Linked DNA regions of Homo sapiens: regions 1 and 2 are each reported to be linked to region 3. Evidence: microRNA targets listed by miRTarBase, many of them from high-throughput screens and not tested one by one. Region 3 holds a microRNA gene; each other region holds the end of a gene's coding sequence.

Evidence for each region. The annotated mature microRNA hsa-miR-4666b reads UUGCAUGUCAGAUUGUAAUUCCC and lies in region 3 at 3,584-3,606, opposite strand. An mRNA with a match to its seed (bases 2 to 7 or 8) in the 3' UTR can be bound and repressed. Matches are read on the target gene's strand: a 7mer-m8 pairs with bases 2 to 8, a 7mer-A1 pairs with bases 2 to 7 and ends in A, and an 8mer does both.
Region 1: miRTarBase lists FOXN3 as a target of hsa-miR-4666b. Seed matches in the 3' UTR shown: 8mer at 1,939-1,946.
Region 2: the mRNA of TNR is a reported target of hsa-miR-4666b. Seed matches in the 3' UTR shown: 8mer at 3,423-3,430.

What each region holds. Positions count from the first base shown.
Region 1 is chr14:89,154,922-89,165,780 of GRCh38, forward strand. It overlaps FOXN3 (forkhead box N3), which reads right to left. Exons shown (of 6, transcript NM_005197.4): 6 at 1,256-8,048. The coding sequence ends at 7,493. Among named protein-coding and RNA genes, the nearest start is that of TRA-AGC15-1, 180 kb to the left of the region's middle. RefSeq lists enhancers at 10,070-10,859, 10,246-10,295, 10,496-10,625.
Region 2 is chr1:175,315,869-175,326,727 of GRCh38, forward strand. TNR (tenascin R) reads right to left here. Exons shown (of 23, transcript NM_003285.3): 22 at 8,488-8,651; 23 at 1-7,608. The coding sequence ends at 7,489. It overlaps LOC105371623 (a long non-coding RNA gene), which reads left to right. Exons shown (of 4, transcript XR_001738302.2): 2 at 5,114-5,253. Among named protein-coding and RNA genes, the nearest start is that of KIAA0040, 130 kb to the left of the region's middle.
Region 3 is chrX:29,572,892-29,577,891 of GRCh38, reverse strand. MIR4666B (microRNA 4666b) reads right to left here and starts at 3,614; the gene lies at 3,534-3,614. All of the region lies in intron 5 of IL1RAPL1 (interleukin 1 receptor accessory protein like 1), which reads right to left.

The DNA.
Region 1 (10,859 bases), not on the chromosome of region 3:
TCCCTTCTCTAAGAACCCATAGGAATTTGAAGACAGTGTTACCTGATCAGAATTTTGCAGGTGTGATCATTTAGACAGGGCTCCCTCAGGCATGCTGATCATCCACGTGGGGTCTCTCCTCCAGTCTCGAGAGTCACTTATTGAAAATGGTTGTTGTAGGTGCTGTTTTAAGGTGGCCCCACCTTATATTTGGCCTCAAGCACTACCCAATTTAGATGATTACTTGATTCATCAGATTCAGCTCCCAATGACTTTAGCTCTTCCTCCCAATCAAGTCTCCTCAAATATTGATTTGTACCCTGGAGGACACATCACAGCTTTGAAAGTGATTCAACAGTGGGATCAGATATGGCAGCAATAAGGGCCAAACCCACAGGATCCAGAGGTGACCACCTTGAGATGGGTAACGGGGAGGAATTTATCCCCGTAAGCTTACCAGGACAGATGGGCCTATGACCTCAGAATGATACCATAACTGCAGGAGGACAGGAGACGCAGCCCAAGCATCTTGGAGAACAAAGACACCAGTGGATGTGGGGGCCCAGCAGAAGGGTAGTGTCCAAGGCCAACTCTACACTACGGTTACTGTTGGTGGCAAGACCTGCAGACAGGACATGCTGAAAACAAAACCATCACAAAAGGAACCAGAGAGATGCACGAGAACATCCTCTTTCTACTCCTCCAGCACGGTGAGTGGTGCCCTGTGATCCCTTCCTTGTTCCCACTCCCCTCTCTCCCATCAGCTCCTTGTTGGCTCCTGGGGGATGTGTGTGCGAGGGTCTGGGGTGGGCACTTGAGTGATGACGTAATAAACCCTGGCAGATGAAGGTCTTAGGGCTAGGAATGTCATTACAAGAAACCCTCAGGATCTGGGATAGGCTGGCAGGCTCCAGTACTAAAGTACAATTGCAGTTTATTGTTTGACAACTTCCAAATGAAAGGGAAGCTCTGTCTAAACCACAAGTCTTAAGGCTCATGATGGGAGGCTGGCCAGCCACCAGCTACACCAAAGCTGGAATTCTCTTGAGATCCCGGGTAAGCCCAGCTTCCGAATGTGCATTTGTGTTTGCAGAGCAGTGTGTGATGCCCACCCAAGCCTACGCACGTGTGAGGATGGGCACAATAAATGCAGCTGAGAACCCCGAAACCAGACTGCAAAAACTGCACACACGCCTGACCGCAGGTAAGGAACAGAAATGACGTTGTGGACCAGCATCTGCACAGGGAGGCGCAGCACACATAACACTACGTGGTGTTTTTCTTCAATTGATGCAACTCAGTAATTTTTATTGCAACTGGAAGACAATACATCACAGAAACTTTATGGTAGGTCTGGGGAAAAGTGTTATTTACAATAAATGATGAAATAGTTTGTCTTTGGCAATATGATTACATACGAAGAATGCAAAATGCAGGTATGGATGCCTTCCAAGCAACACCAAGTCCCTAGAGTTCGGCTGATCGCGCCTGCCTCCACACTGTTTCTTTAGGTTTACATGAACATAACAGAACATCACGTTCTTTCTCCTTTATGGTTCTCCCTTTCTATTCATGATATTGGCAGTTTCATACAGAAAATACAGAAAAAAAATTGGCTTTTGAAAAATTATTACTCTCGTAAATTAATTTGGCCGTGTAGGTCTATTGGCCAGCCAAGGTCAGACGACCCTAAGCATCAATAGTAAACCTCTTGGTCTTCTGATTGCTTTATCACTTTTTTTTTTTTTCTGTAAAACAAAACAAAACTCAGAAATGTTACAGAATCAGAGTATTAAAAAATGTACAAGTGTATATGCTTCCCAGACACACATGGATACATTTTTCCTCCACATTTTCACCATGGCAGTATTAAGTAGTGAGTGTGAATGACACAGCATGAAACTGGTTACTGAATCAGCTATGAGCTCAGATGGCCTCAACATACATACTCAAGAAATGTTGCATGTTTAAATAACTGAGAGTGTGCTAAATCTCATCTAAAAAAAAGGAGGAGAGGGGCTGGGGAACTCAGGCCACAGTCATGAAAGGATGAATACAATTTCTAGGTTTAATAGGTTCACCATATCGAAGTCTTTGAGAATCCAATATGGAATATCAATTATTTTGCAAAAGGTAGAGAAAGCAGTTCTCAACTTTTGCAAATGAAATACAGTGGAAAAACACTGTTGTATATATTCCAAATAAATAGTCTCGATTTCAATGCTAACAAAACAACAGGAAGGGTACTCGTGAGCATCTCACGGTTAAGTCAGAAATGATCGTTCACACACGTCTGATTTCAGAAGTACAACAGCAAGGTGCAGCACCATAGACACATCGGTTTCGGCTGTTAAAAGATGGATCGTTTTAAAAACTGTGTTTTCCTTCCTTAATTTTTGGTCAGTGAAGCTAGCACTTGTTTGCTGAACTGTGGAAGAACTGCAAGGTCACACACATTATTCATGATAAAGCAACCGAGCTGACGAGTCTGTGCTTAATTCAAGAATAACCAGTAGGAGAGAGAGAAAACACAAGGAGTTAACCACCATCGCCGGTGCTCTCTCAAAGGAAGAGGGGTTAACAGATGAATTCACAAAGGTAGGCAGATCTATACAGAACACTGAATGCCATGTGTAAATCCTCATGAAACTCCAGAAACAGGAACACCACACAATGTATATACTTTGATTTACACATTCCGTTACAAAGGAAAAAAAGACACCATTACAGCTTTGTAACTGTGTTAACTGCAATATAAACCAAGTCCAGAGTTTGGCAGGTAACTAAAAGAGGGTTATCACTTAGGTTATATAGCAAAAGTGTTGATGTATATTATATATAGTAGTATAAATAATAAAAAAGTATTATTTAAATTAGATCACAGTGCTGCATTATGTGCATAACAGTGTTTGATATAGTATTGGTGGGCTGGGACCTACGACACTAAGGACTTAACTGTCAACACTGGGAAGTCACAATCAAGAGGAAACACAGAGTTCCAATGTTTTCTTTTGGTGGCAAAAAAAATCCTGAAGATGAAAGAAAAATACTTCTCTACAGAAACATAAAAATCAATTGCAACATCTGGGCAGCTGTGATCCACCAGAAAGAAACGAGTCCCAACCTGGATTAAAGGGAAAGAGAAATCACATGGAATTTAATCCAATCTCATCTAGAAAAGCTTCCCATTTAGGTCACTTGTACGTAACTCCAATTCCTTCTCCAAGAGCCCTTCCAGGAGAGGCCCAAGGCGCCCCCCACAGAGTGGAATGAGTGGAACTTGCGTCAGTAGCCCTTGGCCTGGGCAGTCCTGGCGTGGTGCAGAACTCTGAGCTGGGCACAGAAGGCCTCCACCTGGTTCTCACTCTACAGAGCCCACTGCCTGATGCTGTCCCTCAGGCAGGAGCCTCCTTCAACACAACGGCCCCTCCCAGAAGGCTCTGTGGTAGTAACTGCTGTGGCCAGCAAGCACTAGACACATTGAATGCCTCTGCAAAACAAAAGAAAACTCTGTTCTTGGGAATCGGCCTCTGGCACATTCCTTCTTAAAAACTCCCAAGATTGAGACCTGCCACAATCGTTTTGGCCATGGTTTTCTCCAACCACCAGTGAAATATGGGTTTGGTTCATTTTAGTTTCAGATAGATGGCTTCACCAAAGAACTCTTGAAAGAATACTGATTAGGGAGGGGCAGGGAAGTAGGAGCTTATGGTATATTATAAGGCTGGGAAAAATCTATGATGCAAACCCTTTCCACATAGTACTAGATAAAGACAAAAGACAATTATAATAGGATAAAAATAACTGTTTATATGTATATCATTTAAGAAAAAAAAGAGTGACTGTCTCTTTCTCTTAAATGTATCCGAGGGCCAATAGCAAGTAATCGTAGACGTCGTGGTGTTGATGTGTTCACGGTTGGTTTCCAAAGCATCTTTAAATATTGCTATAGTTCCCCGTTTCCCCCTCCCCCCTGCCCCGTGTGAGTATGTGAGATACTGGAATGACACATGAACCGCCACTTCTCCCAGCAGGAGAAATGAAAGCAAAAACGCCACACCTCTTAATGGTGTTCAGGCGATCTGTCAGACTAATGGATACATATGCTAGTTTGGAAGCTAAAAGAACACCTGACGTTTGGGAAGGAATTCCAAGACTAAAGTGAATGACACTTAAGCAAAATATTCTTTCACAAATAGGCTTGTGCTTAAATTCTCTACTGCTCTTGGAGGAGGGGATAAGAGAGGGTGCCTCCTGCCCCTTGGCTTGTTAAGGACACGGACAACCTCATTCTCCAATAAATTCACTACAAACAGCCACATACACATTGATACTTTTTGTTTTTGTTCTCAACAATCAAAATACAAAGTTAAACACAATTGAGCCATTGTTTTGGTTATGCATAATGTGTATGCCTCCAAAAACAGAAGAAAAATAGGAAGAAGTACCCTCACTAAAGGTTCCCCGACAAGTCTTCCGGCAGATCCAACGAAGGGAGACTCAGGAAAATCACACTTAGAAAGCTGCCCGATGAGGTATTTATGCAAAAAGAGTGGTTCTGGAGTTAAGAACACACTTTTATATTTCTCTATTTCTCAAAGAGATCAGAAAAGTAAATCACACACATTGCATTTTATTATTTTCTAAAAGAGGCCTCTGCCCCTTTAGAAAAATGAAATGAGGGGAGACAGCCCACGGTGGGGGTTTTAATTGGAAGAAGTCCTCGGCCAGAAACAGTCCTGAATGTTGAACCTCTGCCTTTCAGGAGAGAGGTCTGAATTTTATCATCTGTGGGGTGGGATGAAGGTGGGGGACTGAGCTGGAGGTCTTTAGGCTTGGTCAGGTGACAACACAAATCAAGGTGTCGCTCAGGTTCCATAGCTGTGGATGGCTTTTAGGGTGTCAGATGTCTGGGGAGACGGAGGGAACAGAGCACTGCGAAGATACTTTATTCCCACCTACACCCTGAATAAATATGCTGGAAGTATTCAGCTTCAGGTCATGAATTCGACCTGCTGTAGAGGTGTAGGTTTTTTCAGGTTCTCTCATCAGCAACCCACCGGAAGGTAAGTGTGGGGAATGCACCAGTTAGTTCCCACTGTCCGGGCTGATGGAGCTCTGACATTACCTCGTCCTGGCAGATGGGCTTGGCTTTGGCCCACAGCAGTCCCTTTTTTAAAAGTTAAGGTCATCTCTGTTCCCTCCCTCTCCTCACGCATCATATCCTGAGCCACAGTACTGGGTGTTTTTGTTTTAAAGTTTCCCTCCACTTGGATGGAAGATCATATTCTTTTAGAGATTTCTCTTTGTACCCCCGCCCCCCGCCCCCGCCATTAAAGAAAATTTCTTAGGCAAAGGTAACAACAGGAGTTTCTGGGCTGCATGACGTTGTCTGGTTTCTAAATTCAGCTCTCGCAATCTAGGTGGTCTTAATTCCAGGTTGGTCAGTGTGCTGAAGGTAGCGATGGCCGGCCCCTGCTTCCTATTGCGACATGGCATTGTGGCGATAGGATGTCTGGGGCTGGCCTTTCCTACCTCGGCATCGCTTCCTCCTTCACATGAACCCCATCTCGTCCCCTCACCCAATAAGGCCCATTAGCACGGTTCCCCTTCTTCTGGCTAATTTGCATAATTATTCACTGCCTTTTTCCTAGAACCAAATCATGGTAATGATTTTCTCAAGTAAGCGTCCCATAATTCTCTTGATTCTATCATACACACTCACTACTAAGTTTGCCCTCAAATTATTGCGTCATGTTAAACATGTACAGACAGAGAGAAAGGACACACTTTTCAACAGAGAATCAGAGGGGGTCGGGGCTGAAGTGCACACAAGGCAGTACAGAGTTCAACCATCCAAGCCCTACCAGAGCATGAAGATATTTTTATATTGCAGAGTAAGTTCCCCAACAGTCAGAATTTGTCCCTGAAGAAGGTTAAACCTTAAACACCTGCTTCAAAAAACCAAAACAAAATAACCCGAAAAAAAAACAAAAACAAAAAACAAAAACAAAAACAAAAAGGAAAAAAAGAAAGCAAAGAAAAGGAAAGAAAAAAGAAGAAAACCAAAAGAAACTCTAAGCCTAAGGGCTTAAAAATTACAGGCATAGCCTTTTCTCTATTTTCTATATTTATATGAAAATAATTCATGCTTCATGCTAAATACATTATTTACCTTACAAGAACTTTGTTACTTTTGAATAAAAAAAGTTTGTTTTTGTGATTTTTTTCTCTTTTTCTTTTTTTTCTTCAAAGGAATCCATGCATTGTGGATCAGAAATTTCTGCTGGCTATACTGGCTGAATGTGGAAATCACTGATTTTTGCAAAGATAAATCCTGATATTAATTGCAAACTCCATTTTGAGGGCAGTATAGGAGTTATTTTATTTTTTGCCATGTTTTACTTTTTTTTTTTGTCCATCAGTGTACCTTTAATCTTAAAAATACACCACAATACTAATGGCAGGTTCCGTAGCTTTCTAGTTTTTTTTTTTTTTTCACTTGGATCAAATAGTTTTGATAGACAGAAAAAGATCTGTACCATTATTTCCTTTCCTTAACAGCTATTGTAATTTCCTGGACTTGGTTGCTTTTCACTTGGGCAGTTAAGAAGACACAGCTTGTTTTCCCCATCAGTTTTCTCTCTCTCTCCTTCGTGTGTGTGTGTGTGTGTGTGTGTGTGTGTGTGTGTGTGTGCGTGCGTGCACAGGGCCAATCTTCAGGCTTATGGCTTTTGGAACATTTTCTTAATTTAATAGAGAACAGAATTCAATGATTAGCAACATCACTAAAAATTTACCCCATTTCTTCTCCATGAGTCACTGACACCCGATGCGCATGAACAGTCCAACGTCCACCTCGTAAGATGTCATCGGGCTTCAGGGTTCAGAAGCATCGAGGACTGGTGGCCGGCCCTCTGTGCTCGCCGTGTGACAATTCCAGTGGCTTTCCTGGCACCATCAGATGCCTGGTGCCACAAGCTTGGGTCTGCTCCTAGGGGGACGAGGGGTTCCTCCTCCTCCTCAATTGCTTTATGTGCCTTCACTCAGTGAACCCAATGGGATGGACAACCTGACTTTTTAAACCTAAGGGTTGGGCCTGAACGATGATTACTTTGCCCACGTGCCTTCTAGGTGCCGAATGTGTGTTCCTGTGATATTGACGTTGACATCCCTGCGGATTCAGCCACAGGTTTCTGACAAGCTGGAGGAAGCAATGGTAATTTTGGCTTTTTCGGTTTTGTCTTCAGATAATGAAAAGCTTTTGTAAAACAGCTGAGTGTCAATATGAGTTCTATGGCTTCAATCTCCTTTAAAAATAAAATTCTTAAGGGTCCAAAACAAAGAAGAGGGGGCAAATTAAAACAAAATAAAAGGAAAAGAAAAGAAAGAAAACCAAACCAAAAACAAGAAAAAAGAAAAAAAATTGCTGATATTGCCACAAATCATTAGAAATCTCCTGACATGCTGAAACCAAATGGTCGTAAGTTCAAAACAAATCAGTGACTTGTTTTTAATTTTTTGTGGTTTCCTTTTGCTCTTTCTGCCCCTTTGCCGTCCGATTGGTGATGTTATTCAAACAGGACCGGATCCCTGCTAAGTGCAGGAGGGACCCTGCCGCTTCTTTCATCTCCTCATCATCGCTCTCGGGGGGCTTTTCGGTGCGTCTCTTTTTGAGGGGCAGTGTGTCGCTGGGGACCTTCCTGGCCTTGGCGAAGTGCTGGCGCTTCTTGTGCTGGGATGCGTACCCGCTGTCCCCCAGAGAATCCTTGGGCTCCTTCTGGCTGTGCTTCCTGTCGTCCTCTTCCGTGTCGCTGGGGCTCTCGTGGCTCCGGAAGCTCCCCTCGCTGCCCTCGCTGCCCTCCTGGCTCCCCTTGGTGGCAAACTCATAGTGGTCGTCGGCTGAGGAGGAGGAGGAGGAGATGGAGTCGCTGGTGGGCGAGGTGCTCCGGGCGTTGGAGGACTTGGCACTGCTGTAGTTGTGATCCTCCTTGGGGTCTCCGCTGACCACTGGGGAGCCACAAGATGGCTCACTCTCAGTCCGCATCCGGCAGCTGGTGATGCCATTCCTGCAGAGCGAGGACAGTGGGGAGGGACGGGAGACAAAGAAGGGACACAGTTAGACGTCCTCAGATGGGGGCACCCGGCAGCCCGCCTGCATTCAACCATCAGTCCCTTTGTGTTCAATGGAGCCACTCGCAAACTGTGGGGGCAACAGGTGGATCTGCTTTGAAGGCAGGGTCCTAAATCCTGACACCTCAGTCTCCCCTGCTTATCTCCTATAATGGCAGTTTCACTCCATTTGTGTGGCTGAGACGTCAAAACAACAATCTTCTGAAGCGACAGTGGTGGAGGCTCCATCTCTTACATTAAACCATAAAAATCAAGCTGTGCTTGGTTCGTGTCCCCGCCAACACCACAGAGTCAGACACCGCCAGACGATGTTGGCTGGGTACTTCAGAGAAAAAAGCCTGCTCTCGTCTGAAGCGGCTACATTAGGAGGCTTTTGTCAGAAGACTAAACCAGTGTTCAGCAAAGATACCTGCCATGTGGTGACAGCTACTCACTCATGCATTCCCTCCCTCGTTCATGCAATCTACAAATACTCACTGAGCGCCTAACAGAAATGCATGACCTTAGGGAGGGTTCTGGGGGAGGGACACGGGGTTGGATCGGATATAGACACTGCCACAGCGATGTTGCAGCCTAACAGAGAGGCAAGCCAGGGTCGCATCACAGACCAGAGGGCAATAAACTACGACTTCCCGAACTCAACACCTGCCAGGCGCTCTGCTAAGTCTGTGCAGAGGACCATGTTTAACTCCGTAAGGTGGATATTAGCATCCTTATTTTACAGTGGCTCGAAGTGAAGCCTGGAGAAGTTCAGTGATGTACTTAAAGTCACACAACTGATCACTTGCGGAGCAGGGACTGGAATCAAAGTCTGACTCTCAGACTTGAGGTCTTAGCTACATCACCAGACCGACCCTCCTTTGTGATTTCCCTATAACAAGGTCCCTGCTACCCATGCCTATAAGGCGTCTGTAGCACTCATCACACCTCTGATTATTTCTTTGTGTCTTTACATCTGAGCGATGTACTTTCCTTGTGCTTCCTTATCGCGAAAGTGGGAATAGTAACTACACCTGCTCCCCGTGGGTGTGGGGCTGAGGACACGAATTAATGCCTGCAGGTGCCTGGACCACGGCTTGGCCTGACAGCAATGGCTGTGAAGCTTATTCCTGGTTAGGACCCATGCTCCTTATGTCTGGGAGGCAGCTGCCTGTCTGTTAGTGCCTGGCGCCCAGCCTTCAGAAGGATGAATACTTGCAGGAGAGGAGGGTCACTTGTAGCTGAAGGGGACGAAGGGTGGACGCCAGGGAATGTTTTGTGGAAGACAAGGCATCTGACCTTGGACACAAGGGCTGAAGAATTTGGCAGGGATGGGAACTGTTCTATGGCACCATGCTGGCCCGGTTTCCTGTAAGCTCATCTACCTCGTGATCCATTTCTAAGAGTTCTGGGGAACATGACCATACTTTTCCTGCCTAGATGACCCCAACTGTAAGTACTCTTACATCCCCTCCATAGAGGGCACTCCCCACCATCATTATGAACTGTGTGGTCATGTGTCCCATTAGAGAGCTAGCTCCATGAGACAGGGTGTGGTTACTGCTAGGCCCCCAGTGGCTATCGCCGTGTCAGCACGGTGGACACAGCAGATAAACTGAGGAAGTGCGGCACAGGTGGAATCACGTGGCTGAGAGCATGAAGCTTGGGAAATGACTGTGGGTCTCCACCACCATGACTCACCGGGCACACGCTGAGGATACGGCACTGGTAGAAGGGCTGTGGGGTCAGGACCACCAGTGAGATAACAGTAGTGACAATCTCTACCCTGGCTTTTCTCCTGTCACCCTCATGGGCCTTGAGGCTCAGGGAGACTTCAGCTGCATCCCACATAGAAAGTGAAAGGGGAAGGGAAAGAGTCCCTAATGAAAAGGGTGCAGTAGGGAGTGAGGCGAAGGAGCTGCTCTCCTGGGGCCCCAGGGCCGGTGGTATTTTGCTAAATTTAGGCTGGGGGAGAGACTCCGTACTGTCGTGTCCACCAGCAAAATGTATGAGGGTCATTATCAAAACTCAGCCTTTGCTAGATGTCCGAGAGCCTCCTGATGAACCCCAACACTTACAATGTGTGCATTTGTACACGGAAGTCCCAGTGAGACCCAGAAGGGTCCCAGCTTGTGTCCTGTGCTCCGTGATCCCAGATACACACCACCTCCCCTAAATCCTTACAGACAGAGCCTGGCTTGCAAGCCACACACGCCTGTGCTCATATCCCAGTGTTGCTTACTGGTGACTTTGAGCAGGCTGTTTTACTTCTTGAAGACTCAGCTTCCTCATCTACCTTGTGGGGCTGCGTGAGGATTAAATGAACTGTCCTGAGCACAGAGCAAGGCTGTTTGTGGTGCCTGATCATGTTTTTTACTTGTGGTCCGATTCCTGCGACTTCCTGCTGCTGTGACTTGTTCACTCTGAGCAGTCTTGTTTTCTCTTTCTATTCTGGATCGGGAGGCGTATGGGAACCCAGCACCAAGTCAGAGGAAACAGGCCCTTCAAGAGGAGTTCCTCCAGGGCTTGCCTGTGAACACAGCCCCTGAGCTTTGGGGTTTGGCCTCCTCCGTATCTGTTTTCTGCAGACTTCCTATTTCTTGGCTGTGTCTTGGGTGCATAAAGATGGCTGGGATAAGATTACTTTGAGGTGTCACCAAATGTGAAACTTGGTAAATGTAATTAATCATACAGCTAGCTATTAATAGTTATTAGAGCAAACGAAAATGAAAGTCTCGTTGTATGGTCCTTTTAATTTTTGCCATTTG
Region 2 (10,859 bases), not on the chromosome of region 3:
TGTGTTAACCAAAATAGACTCACATAGATTCTAAACCTTGAGTCTGTGGGACCATGGTGTGAGTCTGGGCCTCCGCAGTTGGTAAAGGAGCACTTAGTTGGCCGACATTTTTGCAGGAATTGAAGTGTCTATTGCATCTAATGCACAGGTGTCACTGCTGCCCAAGCAGCCCCCACACTGGAATGGAACCAGTGTTCTGGGGTTCTTTCTTGGGGAGATCTATTCCTTTATATATAAACATCATTCAATTAAAGGGAAGGGGTTTATGTCTGGAGTTTTGGCCTGGCAGCTAAAAATACCAGGTTGCCAAGTACTGATTTCCTTCTAAATTCCCCAAAGTAGCAGAGAAAGCTGATATTGTAGCCAACTGTCTTCTGATGCCTTCCCACCCACTAGGGATGTGGGGCAGGTAAGGAGTGGGGAAAAGAAACCAGGGGGATAAGTAAACTGAATGTATCTCCTGCCTTCTAGCCTCATTCCCCAAATATTTCCACTGATGTACTCCCGCAGGGGACTGTGAAGGTGTTTGTACCCCTGGGAGTCTGGAAGGAGGTAGCCTAAATCAGTCTACAACCTGCTGGAGTTAGCCTCAAAATTTATAGGATATCTGCATTTGTGCTATCCATACTGGTTTGAATACACTAATAATATAATCCTTTCTTCCCAAATTCTGGAGTAAAATTGATGCTCTGAGAACATGTGCCATGTTTATTCTGTGGCTTCTCCTTCCTCAATCCTGGCTACACTGCCTGCTCCAGCTTGAAAAAAATGACTGGATATCCCACTCTTCTAATGTTGGGATGTTCCCAAAAGAGTGGGGTGGGGGGTATTGGGTTTATGTTCTGGTTCTTATCTTCCCCCTCTCATTCTGTTGGGGACCCTCTCCCTCGTCTACCAAATTTAAAAAGAAAGAAAAGGAAAGAGATGTCAGAATGTTTCTTATTCCCCATGATGATGAGATTGAGGGTCCCCTGGAGTACATGGCAAAAATAATGCAAGAATTTCCTTTTCTTAAAAGTCAGAAGAAGTGGCATCAAAGCCCCCTTGTAAGAATATTAGTAAAATCCAAGATGGTGGTCACTCAGCTAAATAAATATAAAGAGCAGCCTCATGAAGTGGAAAAATCAAGGGCTTCAAAATTAGACAAAGGTTCAGATTATGGCTCTATTTAGTAGCTGTGTGACTTTGAGCATGTTACTTAACCTTCCTGGCCCTCCCTTCCCTCTTCTATAAAATGGTTAAACCTGACTTAAAGTTTATGGTGAGGATTTAGTAAAGTAATATATGTAAAGCCCTTTGCACAGTATCTGGTAAATAGTGGGTATGCAATAAATGCTATTTATCTTAGTGTTCATTTGTGGAGAATCAAATTAAAAAGCCTATACCAGACCCGAACTCAGCTCTGTTACTAATTGCCTGTGTGAATGTGAGCAAATTGCCTAAACTTTCTTGCCCTTGGTTTCCTTGAGAGGAAATAAAATGAGAGGATTATATTAGATGATCTTGAGTCCCATCCAGCTCTGAAAGTGTATTTCCAACATTTGCCTGTTGGAGGCAGTGTTGAGCATATTAGTGCTCCATGTCAGAATATTAAAGAGCAACACAGGGTCTCCCTAGGGGCTGCTAAACCAGTGATGGGAAGAAAATAACAGTTCATGCATTCTTGTCCTTGTGTTCACTTACTGACAGTGCATCTGGACTGAAACCCTTTCTTGTGACCTAGGTGTTCTAGACCTGTTGGGTGTATGGCTTGCTTCTCAGGGAAGATGTTTGCACCACCTGACCTGAATCCATGGTGCCAGTGAGTGAGTGCCAGTACCCAGGAGAGCTGGCCTCATAAGGATAATAGAGTTAAATGTTTTTGAACTGGAACTTTAGCATTAGCCTGGCTTCATGGCCCAGACAATAAGGAGCTGTTTTATGAAGTTATCAGAGGGGGCTGAGTGTGTCTGAGGAACAAGAGCTGTGTTATTTGGATGCACTGCAAGAGCCTTATTAAGCTTGAGGAAGGAGAGAGGATTTCCCCTTTGGAGAAAATGCAACACTGTCCAAAGACTGTGAGGTTTGCCAAGGACATTTGGACAATGAAGTGCTGCAGGTGCAATGAAGTCATGTTTCAGGCAAAGATTGACCTTAAAAAAATAAACAGAATGCTGGAGATGACAAATCAGGCTTGTGACTACTGGTGACGCAAAAGTCAGATCCAGGCAGAACTGGTTGAGCAAAGAAAGAAAGTCCTTCTGCTTCTGGTTTTCGGTGCAGTGACAGGCCTTGGTGCCTTAGTTTCTCCTCAAGTTAAGTGGGTGAATGGCAGAAGCTCTGGTGGGAGGCTGGAGGCCAGAACGTGAGAAGCCAATGCTGCTTCCTCTCCCATGGCCGCTCCTGCCTTGTCTCTGCCTTTCAGTGTGGTGCCACCGGTAGAAGGCTTGTTTTGAATCTCCAATGATCCATCAGCTTCTTCTTAATTTTATATTTTTCTTCTTTCCACCTGTTTCTCAAGGCTTGATGAATGTAGAACTGGCATAAACAAATCCAGAGTGGATACAATTAGAAAGAACCAGAGACATTTTTTCAAATTGGACCTGAATCTACACCAATACATCATCTTAAAGCATATAGGAGTTACTTTCCCTGCTTGCTTTTGAAAGTTTTCATTTGGTCTGTGAGTTCTCATCTGGACTGGTAGTGTCCAAATGACCCAGTATTGTTGAAGAAAGCTTTATCACATATGTGTAGGATTGGGTTATGGAAGAAGCAAAGGTTTGAGGAGGCATTCAGCTAAACATCTTCAGGAATGTGGTCAAAGAGAGGCTACAGGAACAACCCCAGGGGCCAGCCTGTAACTCAGCTTTCTTTAGAGGATAGACCCTCTCTGTCATGGTAACCTGGATGAAAGCAGACCATCAGGGAAGTGAGGCAGAGCTGAGTATGCAGCTCCTGGCATCTGGGTGGGAGGCAGACTCCCAGACTTCACACATCTGCCCCATTCCTCTGAGGTCCTGAGACTCCTCCTGCAGCCGTGGCAAGTTTGAAGCAAGTGAAAACAAATTATCCCAACTTCTTTGGGATTATTGAAACTGAACTGAATTTTGAATCTTTCAGAGGTTTCTTAATAAAAATTTAAGAGTGGACAGTGAGATGCAAGGAAGGCGGAAAGTGTCCCCCAACCCCATGCCCTACCTCCTTGGAAGAAAAGACATGGAACTAAGAAATCAGATTGACTAGTATTCTGGTGATAAGAAAGCAAGCAGTAGAATACCATATATCCTGGGCATGTGGCCCCACCTTTCCTGAAATTCTGGGTGGAGGTTACAAAAAAGAAAAAGAAAAAGAAAAAATGTTTTCATGTCCCTAGGGTATTTGCAAATCCAGGTCACCAGCTAGTCTATTTCAACACCCATAGCTTGGTGTATCTAGTGTTCTTGCATGTTCTGTCTTTTCTCCAGAGGAGAGGACAAAGAGGAACTCATAAACTCTTTCCCAACTGATGCTTTTACAAGAGCTATTTGAAAAGATTCCACAATGACTTTTTGTCCCTTAATCTACAGCTCTGCTCTGAGACTGGATTTGAAAAGTAAAAATGTGATTAGGATTGTTTGGTTTGGCATTGAGGTTATTGGCAACCATGGTTCTTTAGGTCTGGCTTTGAAATATCAGGGTGCTGGTTGGTTCTCAGGTGGAAGGAAGCGGGGCATTAGGAGTCCTACCACTTTATGAGTAGTAGAGGGGGAAGTTGGTAGGTGAGGGACAGGTGGATTCAAATATTTGTAGATGTTTGCTTTGCATTTCCTTGCTGCCATATGTTGTTGTTGTTCTTTTACAAATCAATCTCCCATACAAATCAGCTGGCCGGTTTTCCTGAGTCCTGGTTTGGCTCTCCTGGAAACTTGGAGACGTGGCCTTTCTCAACCCCGCTGACGTTTCACACGGGGTTTCAGGAGGTGACTGCCACCTTGTGGCCACACTTAGCAAGTCCCCTTCCACCAGTTCACTGTGGTCTCAAGGCCAACAGTTTTCCACAGACTTGTCATTCTTGCCACCTCTTCTACACCTGACCCCTTCACCTTCCAGAAATAACCCTGGTGAATGTGCATCTGATATGTTGGAAATTATCTTTATATGTTGGGGAAATGCAAAAAAGGGAAACTGCCTGGACCTTGGGTCTAGACAGTGAATCTATTGCAGTCATTGGTGGTGGTTTTGGTTTTGGGTATTAGTACATATCCTGATGTGTCTGTAGTTAAACAGCCTCTGAGAAGGGTCTACCTCGATTCCTTTTGAGTCCCTTGAGGGAAACTGGTGTGCATAGGGTGGGTGCTTTGAGAGTATTGCTTACTGGATCTACCTTTGGGAAATGCAGTTGTGCTTGGAGGAGCAGGATAAGCAGGAATCAGCGAGGAAAGTTATGAGCATTGAGTCAAGTTGACCATAGACCTTGGGATGAGAGTGGGGCACAGTGTCTTTTAAACATGGTGAAAACTCATGAGAAAATCACCCTATTAAATAAAAGGAATCTATAAATCCTTTTATAGAGGGTTGAATAAGCTGATCTTTGAAGTCTCTTTCTTGCTTCAAAATAAAGCTATGCAATGCCGCTGGTACTATTTATAAAAATGTTCCATAGTGTAGAATGGTTTCAATAAAAGGAAGATTTTTGTTTCCACTGATGTTTCTTGACTTTCACCTGAATTGACAACACATAATCTTTTTCCATTTCAACTTCCTTGATGAAGTGGGCGTGCTGGCACCACCCAGGTACCTGGTCTCTGTTTTTATGGACAAAAAGAGTTCAGCCTCTCACTCGGCATGATCTTTTCTGCAGTATTTTCGTGTGTGTGTGTGTGTGTGTGTGTGTGTTTTACTTATGACTCCTGAATCAATCTCTCTCTTTTCTTTCCCTCCCTCCCTCCCCTTCCTTCTTTCCTTCCTTCCTTCCTTCCTTCTTTCCTTCTTTCCTCATTAAACAGGGAGTCTAGTGAATTTTCATTACCTAATTGTGCTGTCCCACCATGCCAATTTCTACTTAGGTTTTCAGATCACAGATTAGCATCATTGACCGTCAAAACTGAAAGGGAAATTAGAACTCATTCTAGTCTAATCTCTCATCTGACAGATGAAGAAACTGGCCCAGAGAGGTGAAACAACCCAGCCGATGTCATGTCGTAGCTAAGATGACAGCTGTTGGCCTGTACCTCGGCCCTCAAGTTTCCCATGCAATGTGCTTCCTACTATTCATTGTTGCCCCGTCTCTAGGTAAGTCTTCTGTAATTTACATGCTTGTTGAAAGGATCTGTTTCTGTTTTTTCCTCCTCCCAGTTTGTTGAAGCCCATGGTTAACTGAGAAATGCAAGTGGTGCCTAGGTTTTTCAGGGTTATGCCTGTCACATCCACACTGCCGCAGTGAACAAAGCCTAGAAGCCTGCGGCAAGGGAAGCGCCTCCATTCAATGGTGGCTGGCTGCATCCCCATGAGGTCCGAGGCCTGATGGTCAGCCCAAGGGACTTTTCATCTTGGTTCTCAAAGCTTGGTAAGAGTGAGGATATTTCCATTAGAAAATTGCCGACACTAAGGCTCATCCAGTAACTGGTTGGCAAAGGTACACACTGCTCTGGTCAGACAAACATAGGCACTACAGAAAATGGTGCTGGGCCTTGAGGAATGGGAGAGGAAAGGGAGAAGACAGCTCAGGGAACTGGGCATGGATCTGGGCAGATGTTGCGGGGATGGTTGCTGATATTGGATTTGGAGGAGAAATTGAAAGGTCACGGCTTCTAGAGCATCTAGCTCTCTTGGGCTTAAGATCAAATTGTGCTAGTGAAGACAGTGCATCTCATAAAATGGGAAGTAGGCCCACAGTTATCACCTATTCACCTTTGGATTTCTGGATGTAATTTCCTTTGGCTATTGTCATTTTTCCTTTGCAAGGCAGAATAATAAAAGAAGATGGAAAGGCTTCTCATGATCTCACCTCATTAAGAAGGTCATTCCTGTTTCCCATAGGACCAAAAAAGAAAAAAAAAATCAACCTCTTTCCAGGATTATCAGTCAGGGGTATAGCTCTCTGGGCATATACCTTCTTCTCCTGACTCTTATTAAGCCACCTACACTAAGGAGGGCTTGGGTGAAGATAGATATGAGGCCTTCGGTTTGCAATTCAGAAAAAAAGAATCTGTGACAAATAGGACCAGAAATGGAGAAAACAGGGCTAGGGAAGATCTGTGTTTCCCATGGAAACTATAATCTCTATGGCAGTGCCCTGATTTTGACTTCTTCAGTCCTTTCCTCAATGCTTGACCCAAAAGTGCTAAAAACTACAACCATCTCCCCCTCCTACCTTTGCAGAAAGTGACTGTCTGTCTGACCTGAGGGTGGGGGCAGTGGCTGATGACTCACAGGCACATAGCCACTGTGCCACCCAGGGCCAGGAGCAGGCAATGCCTTGGGAACTAGATTCCAAAATGCTGGTTGGGCTTTTGAGGCTCTGGGGTCTAAGACAGGATGGGATTAGGCAAAAGACTCCATCAGGGCCAGAAAAGAGCCACTGTTCTTGAAAGGTAACAGGACATGTGGCTGGTATAATAAGAGTGTCAGAAGATGAGAATCTTTGGCCCATTATAAAGGACTTGGGGCTGGATGCAGTGGCTGTAGCCTGTAATCCCAGCATTTTGGGAGGCTGAGGTGGGAGGATTGTTCAAGGCCAGGAGTTTGTGACCAGCCTGGACAACACAGTGAGACCCCCATCTCTACAAAAAATAAAAGAAAAATCAGCCAGGTATGGTGGCTCATGCCTGTAGTCCCAGCTACTCAAGAGGCTGAGACGAGAGGATCACTTAAGCTCAGGAAGTCGAGGCTGTAGTGAGCTGAGATTGCACCACTGCACTCCAGACTGAGCAAGAGTGAGATACTGTCAAGAAAGAAAGGAGGGAAGGAGGGAAGGCAGGAAAGAAGGAAGGGAGGAAGGAAGGAAGGAAGGAAAAGAACCTGGGTTGTTGGGATGCGGTGTAGTTGATCTGTTTCCTTTTAAGGGGAATTGTTGGCAAAACTCTCTTGCTGAGGCTCTTTTCTCTGGGCCAGTGTGAGAACCTGGCCATGTCAGGCTGTGACAAAATCACAAATACCTGGAAGGCAGAGGACATCTCAGAAGAAGGGTAGAAAAATGTGTGTGCCTGTCACCATAACAATCTGCACCCCACGACTTGGCTTTGAATTGGCCCTTTAAGAAAACTTCCTACTTCTCCTCCTTGGTGGGAAAGGAGGTGAAGGTTGAGGAGGCCTGGGTAGGAGGGAGAATGGAGACTGAGGGTCAGGCTCCAGGGCAGCAGAAACCAAGAGCAGATGTTAGCCAGCGGATTCCTGCGACATCCCTGCTTCCTTCACATACTCTTAATATGTTGCAAAACACATTGCTATTACCCTCCCCCCTTGTTTCATATTATAAAATACAAACAAATGACAGAAAATATTGGTTGGCTTGCAGCCGCCCACTGCTCAGAACTGTAAGGACTGCCGTTTTCTCCCTGCCATGAGACGGTGGTTGTAGGGGCGCATCTTCATTTCCACAAAGGGGATGGAGAACTCATGGCCTTTCCAATGGTACCAGTTGATGCCCTGGGCGTGAGAAAGATAAGCATGTCAGGTCATCCCCCACCATGGAACGCCCCACTTCAAAAAAGGGGTAATTATGGGAACAGGGAATCCACAATGTGGGGTTAGCTATTTTCAGCTAACATGAAGCTTCAAGGCCGAGTTCCCAATAAAGTGAAAGGGGCAGAGTCTCTTTCTAGCTTTCTCCTTAAATGTGCCGGTGGCCTGGGTCTTTCCAGGGAACATGTTGCAGGTCATTCCTTATTGCCAGCTTTGTTTTTGGCTTCCAGGAGTGGCATGCACCAGTAGATGGTTGTGAAATCCCAACAGGGTGGAAGCATTTGGAAGAGAATAACTGTGTTTGACTGCTCACTCCTAATGGGAGACTTAGGCGGTTTCTACCTAGGGTGACAAACCCTTTTGGTTTGCCTAGAACTGAAGGGCTTCCCTGATGTGGGCTGTTTCAGTGTTAACACTTAGAAAGTCTAGTTGGTCATGGTGGTCTCCCTGTCACCCAGCTTAGCCTATAAACTTGTGGTCTCTGATAGGGAAAGATTGTCCAGTTCACACTGGTATTTTCGATGTCTACCTTCCTGGGACCATTTTTAGGGTAAAGTTGAGTCTGTGAAGCTGTCCCCAGGACTGATAAGCTCTCTTCATGGGATCTTCTGGATCCAAGGGCTTCTCTGGGTAAGTTCTGGCTCCTGGGTCCTTTCCTTTCCTTCCTCTGGCTTCTACTCTGTCCTGATCTTATCCCATTGTCTGCATTATTTTTCTCAAGACTCAAAATATTTCTTTTTAAAGGGAAATGAAGGACTCACATGTGCTTTTAAAATATAAAGCTAAGGGAGCACGGATTCCACAGCTCTGGCTCATTCATAGCAGAGGTGGAGCATCGCTTACCTGACTGTGCCTGGACTCCCCGTACTTCCCATTGAGGTTGGTCCGGTGGCAGTTCTTATACCACCATGCTCCCTTGTACGACATGGCACAGTTAGTCACTGCAACATCATTGTCTCTATCCTCTGTGGAGAAAGGGCGTCCTTGATGATAGCTGAGGGAGTCCCCTGCAAAAAAGATACATTCATTAGGCTGTCCCATTTGTCACTGCTTTATCAGGATTTTCTGGACACTTGACCCACTTCCAGCAAACCTGGCTTCCACTTATGGAACCTTTTCATTTCCACCCAGTTTCTCAGAGTGGCTGTGCTGAACTCTTACTCCACCTTACCCCTGGGGCCAACCACTTCCATGCTACTCTCTCCAACCCACTTCCTAATCCCTTTGACCACCTTTGCTGAGAATTTTCTCCACTTAACCCCATCTCATTGCCCACCCCACCCCCAACCCTCAGCTGTTTCCTCCCAGCCTGTACGTGGACACAGGCCACTCATGGTTCCTCCTGTCTTCAGAGGAGATGGTGATGAGCCAGGCAGACTTGGGCCATTCTAGGGCACCACCATGCAGCCTCAGCCTGGCTTCTCCCTGGCTTACCAGGCCTGCTCAGATGACACCCAAGAAACTGCATTCTGAACTTGAGGCCACATGGGAAGAGGGGCATCAGCAAATTAGAATTCCCATCCGTAAGAAACAGGATGATGAAAAAAACATAACCATGTCAAAGGAGAAGTGCTTGGGACATCTGGGCTGTATCTTGGGGAAGAGCGGACTTCAAGAGGGAGACATGGCCTGTGATCACTGTCACCAAATATTTGATGGGCTATTGAGAAAAAAATTAAATAAATTCTGTGGGGAAGTATGAGGATTAGTAGGTGGAGATGAAGACATTTATGCAGCCAACAGACACATAAAAAATGCTCATCATCACTGGCCGTCAGAGAAATGCAAATCAAAACCACAATGAGATACCATCTCACACCAGTTAGAATGGCGATCATTAAAAAGTCAGGAAACAGCAGGTGCTGGAGAGGATGTGGAGAAATAGAAACACTTTTATACTGTTGGTGGGACTAAAAACTAGTTCAACCATTGTGGAAGACAGTGTGGCGATTCCTCAAGGATCTAGAACTAGAAATACCATTTGACCCAGCCATCCCATTACTGGGTATATACTCAAAGGATTATCAGTCATTCCGCTATAGAGACACATGCACACATATGTTTATTGCAGCACTATTCACAATAGCAAAGACTTGGAACCAACCCAAATGTCCATCAATAATAGACTGGATAAAGAAAATGTGGCACATCTATACCATGGAATACTATGCAGCCATAAAAAAGAATGAGTTCATGTCCTTTGCAGGGACATGGATGAAGCTGGAAACCATCATTCTCAGCAAACTATCTCAAGGACAGAAAACCAAACACAGCATGTTCTCACTCATAGGTGGGAATTGAACAATGAGAACACGTGGACACAGGGTGGGGAACATCACACACCAGGGCCTGTTGTGGGGTGGGGGTAGGGGGGAGGGATAGCATTAGGAGATATACCTAATGTAAATGACAAGTTAATGGGTGCAGCACACCAACATGGCACATGTATACATATGTAACAAACCTGCACATTGTGCACATGTACCCTAGAACTTAGAGTGTAATAAAAAAAGAGAGGCATATTTAGGCTAAATATACAAGGATAAATTACCTAAATATTAGAGGTGTTCACAAGTGGAATAGACTGCTTAAAGAGGTGGTGAGATTTTTATTCTGAGGGGCAAACAGGCTGCGTGTTCTCTTTTGGGGATATTGTGCAGGGGGCTCAGGTAAATTGTGTATTTAAGGTGAGGGATCAGACTGTAATTAAATTATAACAGTTTATAAAACTTTTAGCAGGATCAGGATTTGTGGCTCAGGATGTTGTGAAGGGGGCTCATGCTACTTATTGAATGAAAGAGGTCTTGGGTGCTTTTGAGCTTGTGTTAAGCGAGGAAAGACCTATTCTGATTCTGTGGCTTCTGAGTCCAGGCTCACAGGGCCACTCAATGCCTCTGATGCCTCCCACCACAACTTAACTCTCAGGAGGTTGACCTTTATTTTATAGGGAAGGCTGACGCCCTCACTGGGGAGGCCCTAACTCAACATGACATGATCTTCATTCCGTCTTCTTCGTCTTCCCCTTCCAGTCTCCAGGGACTCAGATTTTTATGCCCATCTAGAGTTAACCCCACCATCTGCAACTCACTCTTTCCCATCTCTTCCAGATCCTGGAAAAGTTAAAACATATTGCTTACTTTTTCCTTTTTCTTTTATTTATTTATTTTTTTGGTGTGAGACAGTCTCGCTCTGTTGCCCAGGCTGGAGTGCAATGG
Region 3 (5,000 bases):
AAGCATGAGAGATTATTCATTTCCCCTCCCACTCTTTTATGTTTCCTGAAGAAGGCAACTTATAAAAAGCACTCTATAAATAAAAAATCATATCAGGTTATAGCAGAACCAGCAATACTTGGAGGCAGAAAAGGAGGTCACCTCCCTGAGAGGTCTTTAGGTTGCTATTGAAAAATACCTTTGCCATATGTCCCACTACCTGAAATTTGAACATTGGGAAAAGTTAGCATGTATATATCACTGTAGTTTTCCATCACCATCTTTTAAAATACAAATCTCCCCAGTAAGGGTAAACTTGTTCATATATATCATACAGCTGCATCTCTTCATTTCCCAGGTAACTCTCCGCAGGATAGCAAGCTCAGATTGGGGTACTGAGCGAAAGGGAAGTTTAATTGAGAAAGGGAAGCCTACTTTTGGATCACGGGAGTTTGGGGCAAGTTAGGGAATATAGCAGAGATGTCTGAGGACTTCTGAAAATGTTTGTGGCAGGATGAGGATGAGGAGTGGAATTAACAGGCTTGGGTAGGGCATTGTAGTATATGGAGGATTGCTAAATATTGCTTTTTACTTTATCCTGGAATCTGATAACAGTACTTTTTTTTCATAACATCTATTTGTTCACTCATTTATAAAATGTGCATAAATTATCTGCAGTATAAAAACACTACTGAAAATGCAAAGATGACAAAAGATATGTGCCCTCGAGGAGTATAAAATCTTAAACAACTTTCAATAACATTTTGATAAAACAGAGAAAATAGTATTGAATCTCATTCAGTTTTGTTAAATTTAAGAGCCTAAGATGAATGCATAATTTTGAGTGGCTTGGAAATACTGTATAATAACCTTTCATAATTCACAGCAAAATTTCCTGTTTCACTCATTATTGTTAAGTCCAGAAATGGAAACTAAATCACTGAGAAACACATCTTTTTCTAAACTAAAGCACTGCCCTTGAAGTAGAAAAATTTACTGAGGATTTTTTTTTTGTAACCAACAAAGTCTTTATGAAATATAAATCAATATTAGAAACCAAAATTAAATTCATAACCCCAGAAACTTAACCTAGACTAATGGAAGGCTTGACAACTTCAGCAGAACAACAAAGGGAATTTTTCTTTCATCTCGAGTATATATGAAACTCATTCTCCTAAAGAGAGTGAAAATATTGATTTTCACTTGTTTGGTAAGACCTAATATAATCTCTGACCTTCTAGCAAGTCACTACCCTACAGTCAAGGCAACAGTGACAATGGTGATAGCATGTTGAAAAAAAAGAAAAGCCAACAGTTTAAACAGAATCGTTATATGGTGCTAAGGACCTGTATGTTTTAATAATCATAAGGATTACAGGGGACCAAAAGGATCTTTAAAAAAGTATACAATTACAACAAATTGTTCCAGGGGTTTCTCAAACCTGACTTAACTACAGAGATTTTCCCTAAACTGTTGCCATTTCTGAAACTCCCAGTTATTTATTCCTTGATGGTCTTCTGAAGAAATGAGATTTGAATTGCATTAAGACATTATGTAGAATGGGAGGAACAAATCATTAGAATTATAAGGTCAAGGGCTAAAATAGAAAATAAACTAATGAGCATCTTGTCCAGCTGTGTATTCAAGTACCATGGGGAGGAGAAGGTGTTAAAAAAGAAGATTACAGGACCCTAACCTCAAAGATCCTGATTTAATTTCTCTTGGTTGAGACCTGAGAATCTGTATCCCAAGTGACTCTGCTGAGGATTATCAGAGATCCACACCTGGAGAAAACCAGCTCTAGTCTTTCTATTTTATAAATGATGATGCAGAGGGTAAGAACGAAGTTGCATATTTGGAGAGTAGAGAAATATCATTCAATCACCCTCCAAGGGGTCACTGTAGATTTAATTAAACATTCAGACACTCAAAACTATGATAGGCGCTGTTGCCATGAGTCTTCTCAGAAACTACGTCAGGTGATAGAGGTCCTCTCCATAAGAGTCCTTGCTGCATTTCATGTGTATGACAGCTCACACAGCCCTCTGGAAGCTATACCCTCAGAGACACAGTTTAGGTTCAAGGAAACAGATCCACATTATTGAGATGGGGAAATTGTTCTGATTTAGAAGAGCTATCACCCTAACAGGTACAGGCCAACGTCATTCAGGACAACACCACTGACAGCTTCTGTAGTGGTTAATATTAGGTGGCAACTTGATTGGATTGCAGAATGCCTAGCTAGCTGGTATTGTTTCTGAGTGTGTCTGTGAGGGTGTTGCCAGAGGAGATTGACATTTTAGTCAGTGGAATAGGAGAGAAAGATCCACCCTCAATGTGGGTGGGCACCATCCAACTGGCTGCCAGTGCAGCTAGAACAAAGCAGGCAGAAGAAGGTGGGATAAGCTGGCTTGTGGAGTCTTCTGCCCTTGGACATCAGACTCCAGGTTCTTTGGCCTTTGGGCTCTTGGACATACACCAGTGATTTGCTGGGGGCTGTCAGCCCTTCAGCCACAGACTGAAGGCTGCACTGCTGGCTTCCCCGCTTTTGAGGTTTTTGGACTCGGACTGAGCCACTACTATTTCCTTGTTTTCCCAGCTTGGAGACTTTTGGGGACTTTGACTTGGGTTCATGTGAGCCAGTTCTCCCTAATAAACTTCCTCTGATATATACACATATCCTATTAGTTCTGTCCCTCTGGAGAACCCTGATTAATACAGAAAAGTGGTACTGGGAAATGGGACATTGCTATAAAGATACCTGAAAAGGTGGAAGCAGCTTCGGGACTGGTTAATGGACAGAGGGTGGAACAGTTGGAGGGCTCAGAAGAAGATGGGAAGCTGAGGGAAAGATTGGAACTTTCTAGAGACTTGTTAAATTGTTGTGACCAAAATGCTGATAGTGATATGGACAATGAAACCCAGGCTGAGGTGGTCTCAGATGAAGATGAGGAACTTATTGGGAACTGGAGCAAAGGTCACTCTTGTTATGCTTCAGCAAAGAGACTGTCAGCACTGTGCCCCTGCTCTAGGGATCTGTGGAACTTTGAACTTGAGAGAGACGATTTAGAGTATCTGGTGGAAGAAATTTCTAAGCAGCAAAGCATTCAAGATGTTGCCTGGCTGCTTCTAACAGCATATGCATGAGCAAAGGGATGATCTGAAACTGGAACTTATATTTAAAAGGGTAGCAGAGGGTAAAAGTTTGGAGAAGTTGCAGCCTGATCATGTGGTAGAAAAGAAAAACCTGTTTTCTGGGGAGTACTCAAGCTGGCTGCAGAGATTTGCATAAGTAAAGAGGAGCCGAATGCTAATAGCCAAGACATATTGTATCTTGGAATTAACTAACTTGTTTTTTATTTTACAGGCTCATAGGTAGAAGGGACTCGCCTTGTCTCACATGAGACTTCAGACTGCGGACTTTTGAGTTAATGCTGGAATAAGTTAAGACTTGGGGGACTGTTGAGAAGGGATACTTGTATTTTGCCATGTGAGAAGGACATGAGATTTGGGAGGGGCCAGGGACGGAAAGTTATGGTTTGGATTTGTGTCACTGTCTAAATTGCATGTCAAATTGTAATTCCCAGTATTGGAGGAAGGGCCTGGGAATTACAATCTGACATGCAATTTAGACATGATCATGGAGGCAGATTTTCCCCTTGCTGTTCTCATGATAGTGAGTAAGTTCTCAGGAGATCTGGTTGTGTAGCACCTCGCTCTTTGCTCTCTTCCTCCTGCTCCAGCCACATAGGACATGTTTGCTTTCCCCTTCGCCTTCTACCATGATTATAAGTTTCCTGAGGCCTCCCCAGCCATGTTTCCTGTACAGTCTGTGGAACCATGAGACAATTAAATCTCTTTTCTTTATAAATTACCCAGTCTCAGGTAGTTCTTTATAGCAATGTGAGAATGGACTAATACAGCTTCCAAAGACCTTCAAGGGATATGCCCCATATCAAGAGTCCCTGCACCTAGGAACACCCAAAGCTGTGACTTCTTCTCAAGTATTTATGGTTCTTCCAACCTAGATACATCTCATCCATCCACGGGGGACATTTTTATCATAAAATAGTTGACATATACCATTTAACTAGTTTCTAGGATAATAGAGCTAGGCAGTTAGCCAAAAGTCCATTTCTCTTGCAACATGATTTTGTTAACACACCAACAATCATAAATACAATTCTCAAAATGGTAACTTTTACGAGGATCTACCTAAAGGGCTCTCACTGATAACATCTCACTTTTACCAAGATATGCCAGTGATGGGAGGATGATGAAGAACAAGACAGCATTTATTTTTTAAAACTGGTAAATCTTTCAAAAAACTCAGTGCATGTTGCTCTGCAGTCTAGAAGGTGCCTCAGAATATTTGCCTCACCTTTCTCTCATCTTACAAAATAGAAGTCTCATTTCATTAGGACACTCAAGTTTTCAAGAGATAGACAAGTATAATGGACCTAGTAAGAAATGAATTTTTATATATAACTTATTTGAGTTGGGGAAAGATAAGAACAAAGGCATCTTGATTATTGCTCATTCTTTGTTACTACCTATGAACTTGGGAAAGTCAATTGTATTCCTACTTTCCTTTTCAAATTCTTTCCAAATCCAAGCTTATTCTTGTTATGGTCTGAATGTTGTGTCCCTCAATGATTTATATGTTGAAATGCAATCCCAAATGTATTAATAGGTGGGGCCTTTGTGAAGTGACTATATCATGAGGGTGGAACCCTCCTGAATGGGATTAATGCCCTTATAAAGGAAGCCTGAGAGAGTTTGTTTGTCCTTCCATGATGTGAGGACACAGCAACAAGCCACCATCTATGAAGCAGAGAGCTCTCACCAGACACTGATATTGCTGGTGCCTTGATCTTGGACTTCCCAGCATCTAGAACTGTGAGAAATAAATTCCTATTGTTTGTAAATTACAAGTCTAAAGTATTTTGTTATAGCAGCCCAAACAGACTAAGATAACACTATTTTTCTGTTATTTTAATGTATTAATTTCAGGCAATTGA